Homo sapiens: one gene and its partners. The protein of the gene in region 1 purifies or fractionates together with the protein of each later gene. This does not show direct contact. Each region holds a gene or a part of one and is shown in the gene's direction. Other genes may lie near its edges. The genes, in order: SMTNL2, NLN and SKP2.

Evidence for each region.
Region 2: the proteins of SMTNL2 (region 1) and NLN purify together in Homo sapiens (co-immunoprecipitation; 3 studies listed by BioGRID and IntAct, with this or other methods). This does not show direct contact.
Region 3: the proteins of SMTNL2 (region 1) and SKP2 purify together in Homo sapiens (co-immunoprecipitation; 3 studies listed by BioGRID and IntAct, with this or other methods). This does not show direct contact.

Annotation. Positions count from the first base shown.
Region 1 is NC_000017.11:4,601,432-4,605,182, forward strand, and holds part of SMTNL2 (smoothelin-like protein 2), read left to right. Parts: intron 1-3,751.
Region 2 is NC_000005.10:65,788,156-65,791,906, forward strand, and holds part of NLN (neurolysin, mitochondrial), read left to right. Parts: coding exon 1-329; intron 330-3,751. UniProt on the Homo sapiens protein: Hydrolyzes oligopeptides such as neurotensin, bradykinin and dynorphin A. Acts as a regulator of cannabinoid signaling pathway by mediating degradation of hemopressin, an antagonist peptide of the cannabinoid receptor CNR1.
Region 3 is NC_000005.10:36,154,978-36,158,728, forward strand, and holds part of SKP2 (S-phase kinase-associated protein 2), read left to right. Parts: intron 1-3,751. UniProt on the Homo sapiens protein: Substrate recognition component of a SCF (SKP1-CUL1-F-box protein) E3 ubiquitin-protein ligase complex which mediates the ubiquitination and subsequent proteasomal degradation of target proteins involved in cell cycle progression, signal transduction and transcription.

The DNA of each region.
Region 1 (3,751 bases):
CAGCCCATGTTAACTCTGGTTCTTGCTATGGAATGGCATTTAAAGTGATTTTTACTTTCTCCTTTGAACTTTCTGTTTGAATGATTGATTGATTGATTGATTGATTGATTGACACAAGATCACACTTTGTCTCCCAGGCTGGAATACAGTGGTGCAATCACAGCTCACTGTAGCCTCAGACTCCCAAGCTCAAGTGATCCTCCTGCCTCGGCCTCCCAAGTAGCTGGGACTACAGGCACACACCCCCACACTTGGCTATTTTTTTTTTTTTAGAGACGGGGTCTAACTATGTTGGCCAGGCTGGTCTCAAACTCCTGGCCTCAAGTGATCCTCCCGTCTCAGCCTCCCAAAGTGCTGGGATTACAGGCATGAACCACCGCACTTGGCCTGTTTGAATCATTAAAACAAACCTGTATCATTTTTACAAAAGCAGTTGTTGTTTTTTTTTTAATTTAAAAGGCAATTGGGACCTCTAATATTTGGAGACTCAAACATTTTTTATAAATGTCAATGCTGATCATCACTTTCTTTTTCTGCTGTCTCCCGAGTTTTGTCCAGCCTATGTCTGCAGCTTCCAGGAATCTTGCCATCATAGGTCAAATATCCCTTATCCAAAATGGCCTGGGACCAGAAGTGTTTTGGATTTTAGATTTTGGAATATTTGCATTATATAATACTTACCGGTTGAGCATCCCAAATTTAAAAAATCCAAAGGCTCAAAAATCTGAAACTTTTTGAGTGCCAGACACAATGCTGAAAGGAAATGCTCATTGGCGCATTTTGGATTCGGTATGATGAACCTGTGCCATTGAAGCTGGCACCATGTCTCTGAGGGAGAGTGCTCCCTTTGCAGGGACAATCTGGGGTGGAAGGCAGGTGCTTTTTTTTTTTTTTTTTTTTTTTTTTTTGAGATGGAGTTTCGTTCTTGTTGCCCAGGCTGGAGTGCAGTGGAATAATCTCAGCTCACTGCAACTTCCACCTCCTGGATTCAAGCGATTCTCCTGCCTCAGCCTCCCGAGTAGCTGGGATTACAGGCATGCGCCACCATGCCCAGCTAATTTTTGTATTTCTAGTAGAGATGGGGTTTCACCATGTTGGCCAGGCTGGTCTTGAACTCCTGACCTCAGGTGATCCTCTCGCCTCAGCCTCCCAAAGTGCTGGGATTACAGGCTTGAGCCACGGCACCTAGCTAATTTTTGTATTTTTAGTAGAGACGGGGTTTTGCCATGTTGCCCAGGCTGGTCACGAACTCCTGACCTCAGGTGATCCGTGGAAGGTGGGTGCCCTTGAAGGTCTGCTGTGAGCTGTGCTTCAAAGACAGAGAATGCTCTCTGCCTGTGGGAGGCGGAATTTGGAGCTCCCCAGGAAAAGAAGTGGGTGAAGAGCAAAGGTGGCAGGTGAAGAAAAGAGGGAGCCAGGAGACGGTGGTTGCGTGTTGCATATTGTGACCCCTCCCTGCTCCCCTAGGAACCCCTACACTCTCATGTACTCAACTTAGAAATAACAACAGTGGGGACCATATGGATCATGGCCCAGTGCCCTGGTTGCCTGCTGGGGAAGCCGGCGATCTGGACAGCGGAGGATGACACAGGGCATGGCATCCACTCCCATCCTGACTGCCACCCTGGACTTGAAGACTTGCCACCAGGGCAGGGGCCCACCAGGGGTCATTATCAGAGGGTAAACGCAGCCTCTAGAATGAGGAGGGGTCAGCTTGCTGTCTTCTGCAGAGGCTGGACAACACCCGGAAAATGCCGGCAATTCTGAGGGCCTCCTATGAAGTGGGTTAGGGAGTGGCAAGACCTGGTTCGGAGAGGTGGGTCCTGGGTATCCTTTGTGGGAACAGTTAAGGAACCAGAGCTGTTTAGTTCAGAGAAAGACATGGAAGGAAGGTTTTCTTCTGGCGTGTGAAGGGTTCTGACATGGGGGAAAAATCAGACTGAGAATAAGTAGCCTTATGGGGTCAGCAGGTAGAAAGTACACACAGGCACAAATAGCGTAAGAAATGTTAGAAGAACTTTCTCGTGGTCAGAGCATCTGCAGAGGGTTCTGAGCTGTCCTTGGAGGAAATTGGGTCCCCTTTCCCTGGACCCTGAGATGAACAAGCTGAGGCAGGGCCTTTATAGAGGTGATTGGTGCTTCTGACGGGGGTGTTTGGATGGTTGGAGGTCCTAGAGTCCTCATGCTGTCCCTACTTAACATGTGGCACCACTGAGGCCACCGCCGTCAGTGCTGATAACCAGAGCATGTGTGGAGCCTGTTTCTACACACCTGGGATCCTCCAAATAGCAGGTGTGGGAGTGGAGGTGCCCCAGCTGTGTGGCAGGTGGAAAGGAGGGCACCAGATATGAAATGATCGCTCAGGAAGGTGAACTCAGGTCCCCAGCCTCTCTGAACTCAGATTTTCTTTTCTTTCCTTTTTTTTCCCCTTGAGATAGAGTCTCACTCTGTCGCCCAGGCTGGAGTGCAGTGGCATGATCTTGGCTCACTGCAACCTCCGCCTCCCGAGTTCAAGTGATTCTCCTGCCTCAGCCTCCCGAGTAGCTGGGACTGCAGGCATACGCCACCACACCCAGCTAATTTTTGTATTTTTAGTAGAGACGGGGTTTCACCATGTTAGCCAGGATGGTCTCCAACTCCTGACCTCAAATGATCTGCCCACCTCAGCCTCTTAAAATGTTGGGATGACAGGCATGAGCCACCGCGCCCGGCCTGAACTCAGATTTTTCAATGCTTTATCATCGACAAAGCACCTTTGCACGCCTGCTCGCATCAGAGGGCCAGCTTCCCTGACATCGAGCCCTGCCCTGGCCTGTCCCAGGGAGAAAGGGTGCCCGCTCATTGGGCCAAACCCACTCATCACCCCACAAAGCCTGTTGGATTCACTTACAGGCCACCCGCTACAACTCCAAGCAGGAGGTGGGGAGGGGATCCAGGACAGATGCCTCCATTTCGCCTTGACATTTGGTTTCTGGTAGGAGGCCTGGCGTCCAGCCAGCACAGCAGAGCAGGGCCTGCGGGTAATGTTACAGTCTTGTCTCTGGAGCACACAGCCGCGTGAGTCCTGGTAGAAAGTGCTGAGTGCGTCGTGCCAAACTGGGATGGGTCAGAGGAGTCTTGCTCGCTCGCTGGGGTCTCCCCTCTGGCTGGGCTCTCTGGGGAACAAGATGCATAAAGACACATTGTGGAATCACAGCCTCACAACAGGCCCACTGGGAGGGACAGCAGAGGTGGTATTCTGATTTTTTTCTTTTTTTTTGAGACAGAGTCTCGCTCTGTCAGCAGGCTGGAGTGCAGTAGCACGATCTCGGCTCACTGCAACCTCCACCTCCTGGGTTCAAGCGATTCTCCAGCCTCAGTCTCCCAAGTAGCTGGGATTTCAGGCGTGCACCACCATGCCTGGCTAATTTTGTGTTTTTAGTAGAGACAGGGTTTCACCATGTTGGTCAGGCTGGTTTGGAACTCCTGGCCTCAGGCAATCTGCCCGCCTCGGCTTCCTAAAGTGCCGGGATTACAGGTGTGAGCCACCGTGCCCGGCCAGTATTCCGATTTTGTGCTAAGGAAATGGGCACAGAACAGTGAAGCAATGGGAGGAGTCGGGGTTTGAACTCTACTGTTTTGATCTCACATTCAGGCCTCTTCTCTGTGATCCACCCTGCTTCTTAAAGCAAGGCATGATCGTCAAAATGGCAACAAGAATAATCTCTGACTTTTTTGTTTGGTTTTTTTTTTTTTTTTTTTTTTTTTTGAG
Region 2 (3,751 bases), on another chromosome or scaffold:
GAACGAGAGTTTATTTTGAATTTGAAGAAAAAGGAATGCAAAGACAGGGGTTTTGAATATGATGGGAAAATCAATGCCTGGGATCTATATTACTACATGACTCAGACAGAGGAACTCAAGTATTCCATAGACCAAGAGTTCCTCAAGGAATACTTCCCAATTGAGGTGGTCACTGAAGGCTTGCTGAACACCTACCAGGAGTTGTTGGGACTTTCATTTGAACAAATGACAGATGCTCATGTTTGGAACAAGAGTGTTACACTTTATACTGTGAAGGATAAAGCTACAGGAGAAGTATTGGGACAGTTCTATTTGGACCTCTATCCAAGGTACTGAGGATCACGTTGTTGGAAGGGACCTTAGGGATTCAGCTATGCCTACTTTAAGACTCTACTCTTGGCCAGGCACAGTGGCTCATGCCTGTAATCCCAACACTTTGGGAGGCCAAGGTGGGAGGATTGCTTGAGGCTAGGAGTTCGAGACCAGCCTGGGCAACATAGTGAGGCCCTGTCTCTACAAAAAATTTAAAAATTAGGTCAAGTGTGGTGGCTCATGCCTGTAGTCCCAGCACTTTGGGAGGCCGAGGCAGGTGGATTGCTTGAGTCTAGGACTTCAAGACCAGACTGGGCAACATGGCAAAACTCTGTTGCTACAAAAAATACAAAAATTAGCCAGGTGTAGTGGTACATGCCTATAGTCCCAGGTACTTGAGAGGCTGAGGTGGGAGGATCACTTGAGCCTCAGAGGTGGAGGCTGCAGTGAGCCAAGATTGCAACACTGCACTCCAGCCTGGGTGACAGAGTGAGACCCTGTCTCAAAAAAAAAAAAATGAAAAATTAGCCAGGTGTGGTGTGCACACCTGTAGTCCTAGCTGTGCTGAAGCAGGAGGATCACTTGAGTCCAGGAGTTTAAGGTTACAGTGAGCTATTATCACACTGCTGCATTCTAGCCTAGGTGACAGAGCTAGACCCTATCTCTAAAAAAATTAATTTAAAAAAAGACTCTACTCTTCCATATTTCTCACATGGGCTTCTTAGTATACAGATTTAAAATGTGGGTCTGAAGCCAGAATGTCTGGCATCATCATTTACTAGGTAGGTTACTTAATTTTTCTGTGCCCCAGTTTTCTTACCTATATTATAGGTCCTATAAACTGGGAATATTAGTAGTACCTGCTTTGTATGGTCACTGTAAGGATTAAATTGGTTGAATACATGCAAAGCATTTAGAAGACTGCTCAGCACATAGCAAAGGCTTAATCAGAGTTAGCTGCTACCATTGTCATTATCATCATCATCTAGTTTGTGCACTACATTTACTTAATTGAATATTGACCACCACCCAGACATGGTGGCTCACACCTGTAATCCCAGCATTTTGGAAGGCTGAGGTGGGCAGATCACTTGAGGTCGGGAGTTCAAGATCAGCCTGGCCAATATGGTGAAACCCTGTCTCTACTAAAAATACAAAAATTTAACAGGCATCTGTAGTCTCAGCTACTTGGGAGGCCAAGGTATGAGAATAGCTTGAACCCTGGAACTGAGATCACGCCACTATACTCCAGCCAGGGCGACAGAGCAAGATTCTAACTCAAAAAACATAAATAAATAAAATTGAGCACCAAAATATTTATTAGATAATCTGTCTGCCAATAATCTATGGCCACTCCCTTCAGTCTGGCTGAGAGGCAGCACAGTTTAGTAGAAGTAGCAAAACCTTTGCAGTCAGTCAGATTTGAGTTTGAATGCTTGAGTGACATAACCTCTTTGAGATTCTGTTTCTTCCTCTGTAATATGGGACTGGAAATCCTTTTACAGGATTGTTTTATGCATTAAAGACTATATGTGCAAATCATCTTCCCCAGATATCAGTGGTAACAATTATAAAAATGTTATAATTGTGTCTATAGCATGTAATAACTATAGATTCCATAGTGTTTCATCAGATACAAAAGGATTTGGATCTCTTTCTCCCCAGGCTACTTTCTAAAGCAAAGTCAACCTCTTACAATTACTAATCATTTAAATAGATCAAAGGAGAGTATAGTATCCCCCTCATTCAGTAATACACACAAGTTTGTAATCCACTGACTTTGAGTGCTGAAAAGTAGGTTGAGTAACTGTGTCATCTAGTTGGTGGGCAGAAGTGTCTTTTAGCACCTAAGTGATTATCCTGGTGTATTAGTCCTTTCTCACAGTGCTGTAAAGAACTGACTGAGACTGGGTAATTTATAAAGGAAAGAAGTTTAATTGACTTACAGTTCTGCAGGGCTGGGGAGACCTCAGGAAACTTACAATCATGGCAGAAGGGGAAACAAACACATCCTTCTTCACGTGGCGGCAGGAAGGGGAAGTGCCAAGCCAACAGGGGAAAGCCCCTTATGAAACCATCAGCTCTTGTGAGAACTCACTCACTATCATGAGACTGGCTACCCCATGAATCAATTACTTCCCACTGGGTCCCTCCCACGACACGTGGGGATTATGAGAACTACAATTCAAGATAAGCTTTGGGTGGAGACACAGCCAAATCACATCACCTGCTGCTTTATGGACTTACTTTCACTAATATTATGACCTAAAAGTAAAACCCTGCCAAATATAGATGAGTCTTATTTTTAAATAAAAAGTATCAGGATATAGTTTTAACCGAAGAACTCTTTCAGGAGTAATCCTTTAATATTGGAGTCTCCTATAACTGTCCTCAGATTTTCTTTCCAGCGTCAAATAACAATTCTTGCTACCTCATTCTGCTGTCTCACTGCCAGGATATAATTAATTTCTTTTGTACTGAGAGATCTGGTCATTGCTACCAGCACCCTGGTGTGGGTAACAGAGAGTAATCTTTGTGAAAGTAGTGACCTAGTTAATACTTACTTCCTGTCATCTTAAGATGTTCTCTTCATAAAGGTAAAAGGGATTAACTTGTTTTATTTGTCTAACTGACTTTTAAAAAGGGTATTCAGAATAGGTTTTAAAAAGACCAGGTACTGTCTGGGTGCAGTGGCTGTAATCCCAGCACTTTGGGAGGCTGAGGCAGGTGGATCACTTGAGGCCAGGAGTTCAAGACCAGCTTGGTCAACATGGTGAAACCCCATCTCTAGTAAAAATACAAAAATTAGGCTGTGCACAGTGACTCACACCTATAGTCCCAGCACTTTGGGAGGCCAAGGAGGGCAGATCACCTGAGGTCAGGAGTTTGAGACCAGCTTGGCCAACGTGGGAAAACCCCATCTCTACTAAAAATACAAAAATTAGCTGGGTGTGGTGGCAGGCACTTGTAGTCCCAGCTACTCTAGAGGCTGAGGCAGGAGAATCATTTGAACCCAGGAGGTGGACATTATAGTTAGCCAGTATCTTGCCACCGCACCCCAGCCTGGGCAACAGAGCAAGACTCCGTCTCAAAACAAGAGAACAAAATTAACCAGCGTGGTGTTGTATATATGTAATACCAGCTACTCAGGAGGCAGAGGCAGGAGAATTGCTTGAACCTGGGAGGCAGAGGTTGCAGTGAGCTGAGATCATGCCACTGCACTCCAGCCTGGATGACAGAGCAAGACTCTGTCTCAAAAAAAAAAAAATAAAAAGACCAGGTACTATTAGTCTTCTGAGCAAAAGAAAAGGGGGAAAGGACACGTACTCCCAAAATGAAGTCTGATAGCTTTTGGAGAATGAAGTCTAATAGCTTTTGGAAAGACCACACAGATACGACACTGTACAAGAATAGTCTAATTGATAGTATAATTTATGCA
Region 3 (3,751 bases), on another chromosome or scaffold:
ATGATGGCGAAGAAGAAACAGATTAAACATTTAAAGATGAAGTCTTGCAGACCCAAGGTAATTTAAGTATATTCATAAATTCTCCCATCTGGTTTCCTTTGCAGAAGGGTTGATAGATTGGTTGTTTAGTTGATTGGTTGGTTGCTCGCTTTGGCAGCACATATACTGAAACTGGAAATACAGAGAAGATTAGCATGGCCCCTGCGCAGGAAGACATGCGGATTCGAGATGCATTCCACTTTTAATTAAGAAAATAAATACGTTTGTTTTCAGCCTTTTCTTTAGGAAAGAGAACTTTGCCCAATTTATGGTCTGGGAATATACATCAGGAATTGGATTAGTTAGAAAAGCAGTAGAGGGTTGTAGTGAAGTCAGATCTGGGTTTGAATCCTCATTCTTGCGTTTATCAGCCTTGGAAAGTTATTCGAGCTTTCTTTGCCTTAGTTCCTTTATCTGTGAAATGGAGTGCTGTAATAATACCCACTTCACAGGTCGTCGTGAAGATTAAATGAGAATGACGTAAAACCCTTAGCATGCCACTGACACGTAACAATACATAAGCCAACAAAATTCCTGACACCAATTTTGGAGGCTAGTGGACTTTTATCTTTTGTTTTTAATATTGTTACTCTGACCCTGTTAGTATAAAATTTTTTTTCTTCAAAATTTAATGTTCACCGCTCTTCTTTGTGTCTGGAATGTAGCCCTAACAATCTGGTGCTTGACCAACCAAATATGGCGAAAGATACTTCCTGCTAAGATGAACAGATTTTTATTAACCTGTCCAGTGCCGATAGCTTTTGACATAGAGTGTGATTGCTATATGCCCTTCCACAAGTGAAAAAGAATTTTTTTTAAGCAAGGCACTGTGGGAACAAGACAGAAGTTTCCGGAGTCTTTGCTATTTCCCAGGAATTTGCAAGTCAAGTTGAGGAGAAAATACAATAAAAAATAAGAGCTGTGATTCCCATTCAGGTGGATGTGGAAGATCTTCCTCCTTCCACTCAGCAAGAAAGGAGATTCTGAGGAAAGAGAGGGCTCTGAAAATGGTGTAATCAGTGTCTTGATGGTTAAAGCTGACTTCAAAAGTATATATCTGAAGGGAGAGAGAAAGAATGGTGACTTTTATGTTTATTACCTAAGGAGAGGCACAGAGGGAAACCAATGTACGTGGACTTACAACAGAGATTGCTTAATTGGTGTGGAGTGGGGAAGGGTGAAATCAGTGATGCAGGATGAGGGACAGCTGGTATAGAGGATTCCCAATGGGCCTTTGGAAGCCTGGGCCTCCAGTGGAGCCGGATTGTCATTCCAAGGAGTTTTGTCTGCAGTTGTCAGGACAGGTGGCTACTAGCTTTGCCAGGATTAGGGTAGAACAGGCCACACCTGCTGTACATAGATATCTGATGACTGGTTCTGGGCTGCAAGTTTTTGTTGGTTCTTTGCTAAGCAGTTTCTCCCTGCAGGCCCCAGTCCAGCCGTACATCTGGCAACTAAATCCTCTTCATCCGTTTATCTGGGAAGATGAAAGCTCTGTGGCCAACCTGTACTAGAACAGGTCTGATTGGCCCTTGGAGTGAGTGTATGGAAAGAGTTGGGGAGGAAATGGCCCAGCAATGAGGTCAGTAACAGGCGGAAAGGGGACAATTGCATTTTATTTATGGTCATGAAATGCTTGTCCCCCACCCCACCCTTTAAACAGGTGATAGCCATGAAAATGGAGGTGAACTAATTTGTTGATCAGCTCTTCCATGACTCTTAAATGCTTGAAATTCCAGACCCTAAAGTGGTTGTCAGACTGGAGATACTAAAATTTACTGTATATCAGAATCCCCACAGGAACTTGTTCAAAGTGTAAAATTCCTGAGATTCTGATCCGGGGAGTCCTGGCCTGAGTGAGCCTGGGAATCTGTGTCTTAATACCCTTAGGCAAGCATTTTTTCCAACTTTTTTTTTTTAACCAGTAAGAAACATATTTTACATTGCAATCCTGGGTATGTATCTGAAACAGCAGTTTTACAAAACTGTATTTCCCCTTACTAAGATATTTTCTATTCTGTTCTAGTTCATTCTTTATATGTACATATATGCTAGTCAAACCCACTAAATTGATTTCATGATCTATGTGAGTCTCAGTCTACAGTTACTAAACTCAGCACTGGAAGAGCCTTTATGGGATCTTCCCAGTCATCTTTCTTTGTTCCATAGCTTCCTTTCATTCATCCATTAAGCAAATATTTCTCAAGCACCGTTTTAGAGGTTGGGACTACAATACTGAACATAACAGGCAAGAGACCCTGCCCTCATAGTGCTTATACACTGTTCCATATTTTTTCCAAATCCCAGCTTCTGTTGTTTCTTCATTACACCCCCTACACCTCAGGGTTGAGCAAGTCTTTCATAGAAATAAAGGGTTGTGGGACTGAAGGGGTACATGGGGGAATCCTTGTTAAGTTTGGCTGTGTTTTGTTTTTTTCAGTTTTGCCCACCTTAGCCAAAAAAACAAAAACACCCAAAGCCAACATGGCCTCAAATGTATTATTTATGGTTTGTGGGAAGAGGAAGGAGAACTCATCTGGGATGGCACAATCTGTTTGTAGTTCCCCAGAAAGAAAGCATGGGGTATTGCTACTTAAAACAAGCCAGCAAAAGCAATTCTGAGGTGAGCACCCCCCAACTCCCTGAAAGAAATGCACACACACACAAAAACAAGTATGAGTACCAGGTCCTCAGTATACATTTCTGCAAGTATAATCTGATTATGCTTAAAGAGCAGCAATTTTTTAAGTCAAAAGTTTGATTATGATTAGCATTACTTTGGATTTTCAGCTTGAATCTGAGTGGAGTGGAGTGATGTTCTGAGAAATAAATGAGTGGAGTGATATTCTGAGAAATAAATATGTCAAGTAAGATGAGTTACCTACACTGCAAAGATGGAATGCATAGAAAACTCTCCAACAAGGCCCTCTTCCCAGAGAATTTCAGGAAGCATGAGATGTGATAAGGTTACAGAAGTGGGAAACTGGGTTTGCACCTGAGAAATAATTGGAAACAGTGGTAGGTGAGGGTGATTGTAGTAGGTTTGCTGGTTTGGCCCAGTTTTTGCCCTTTCCTGGCCCTGAAGTATATTTAACTGCCGTCCATGTCATTGAAGACTGGAGACCTTGGGCTCAGTAATTATGTCTTTTAATGTGGGTCTGGTATGCAGCTACAGCCTTGCTGGATTTAGCAGAGACAAGTGGAGAAAAGACCTCTGGATTTTTCCTTCCGCTCTCTGCAAACAGACCAGGCAGCAGTTTCATCATGAATTCAGGAAACAGATGGCTAATGTTTTGAGAATTAAATATGGCAAGGAAAATTAGATTAAGCATATCACAGCCTGGATGCCTATTGCTAGAGCAGCTATTAAAGACAAACTTCTGCCCCATCTGCTGGGACAGCAGCCCATATCAGGCTGTGGTACCCCCACCCGGGGCCCCTAGGATTAGTGTCATTCTGTGGTCAGCTGAGTAAGAGCACTGGGTACTTGGCTGCTAGCTGAGTATGTGTGTTTTCTAGGACCTTGCTCCTTCCATTTGGTGGTGAACCCATTGATAGCATCTTTGTTTTATTTTCTCTCTCCTCCTCCACTCACTCCCTAGCCCTGATTGATTTCTGTTTCCATAGCAAGTCCGGGTTTAATTCTCACCTTTTCAAAATTTGTACTTACAACAGAGGAGAGCATAGAATATTAGAACCCACTAGGATGGAA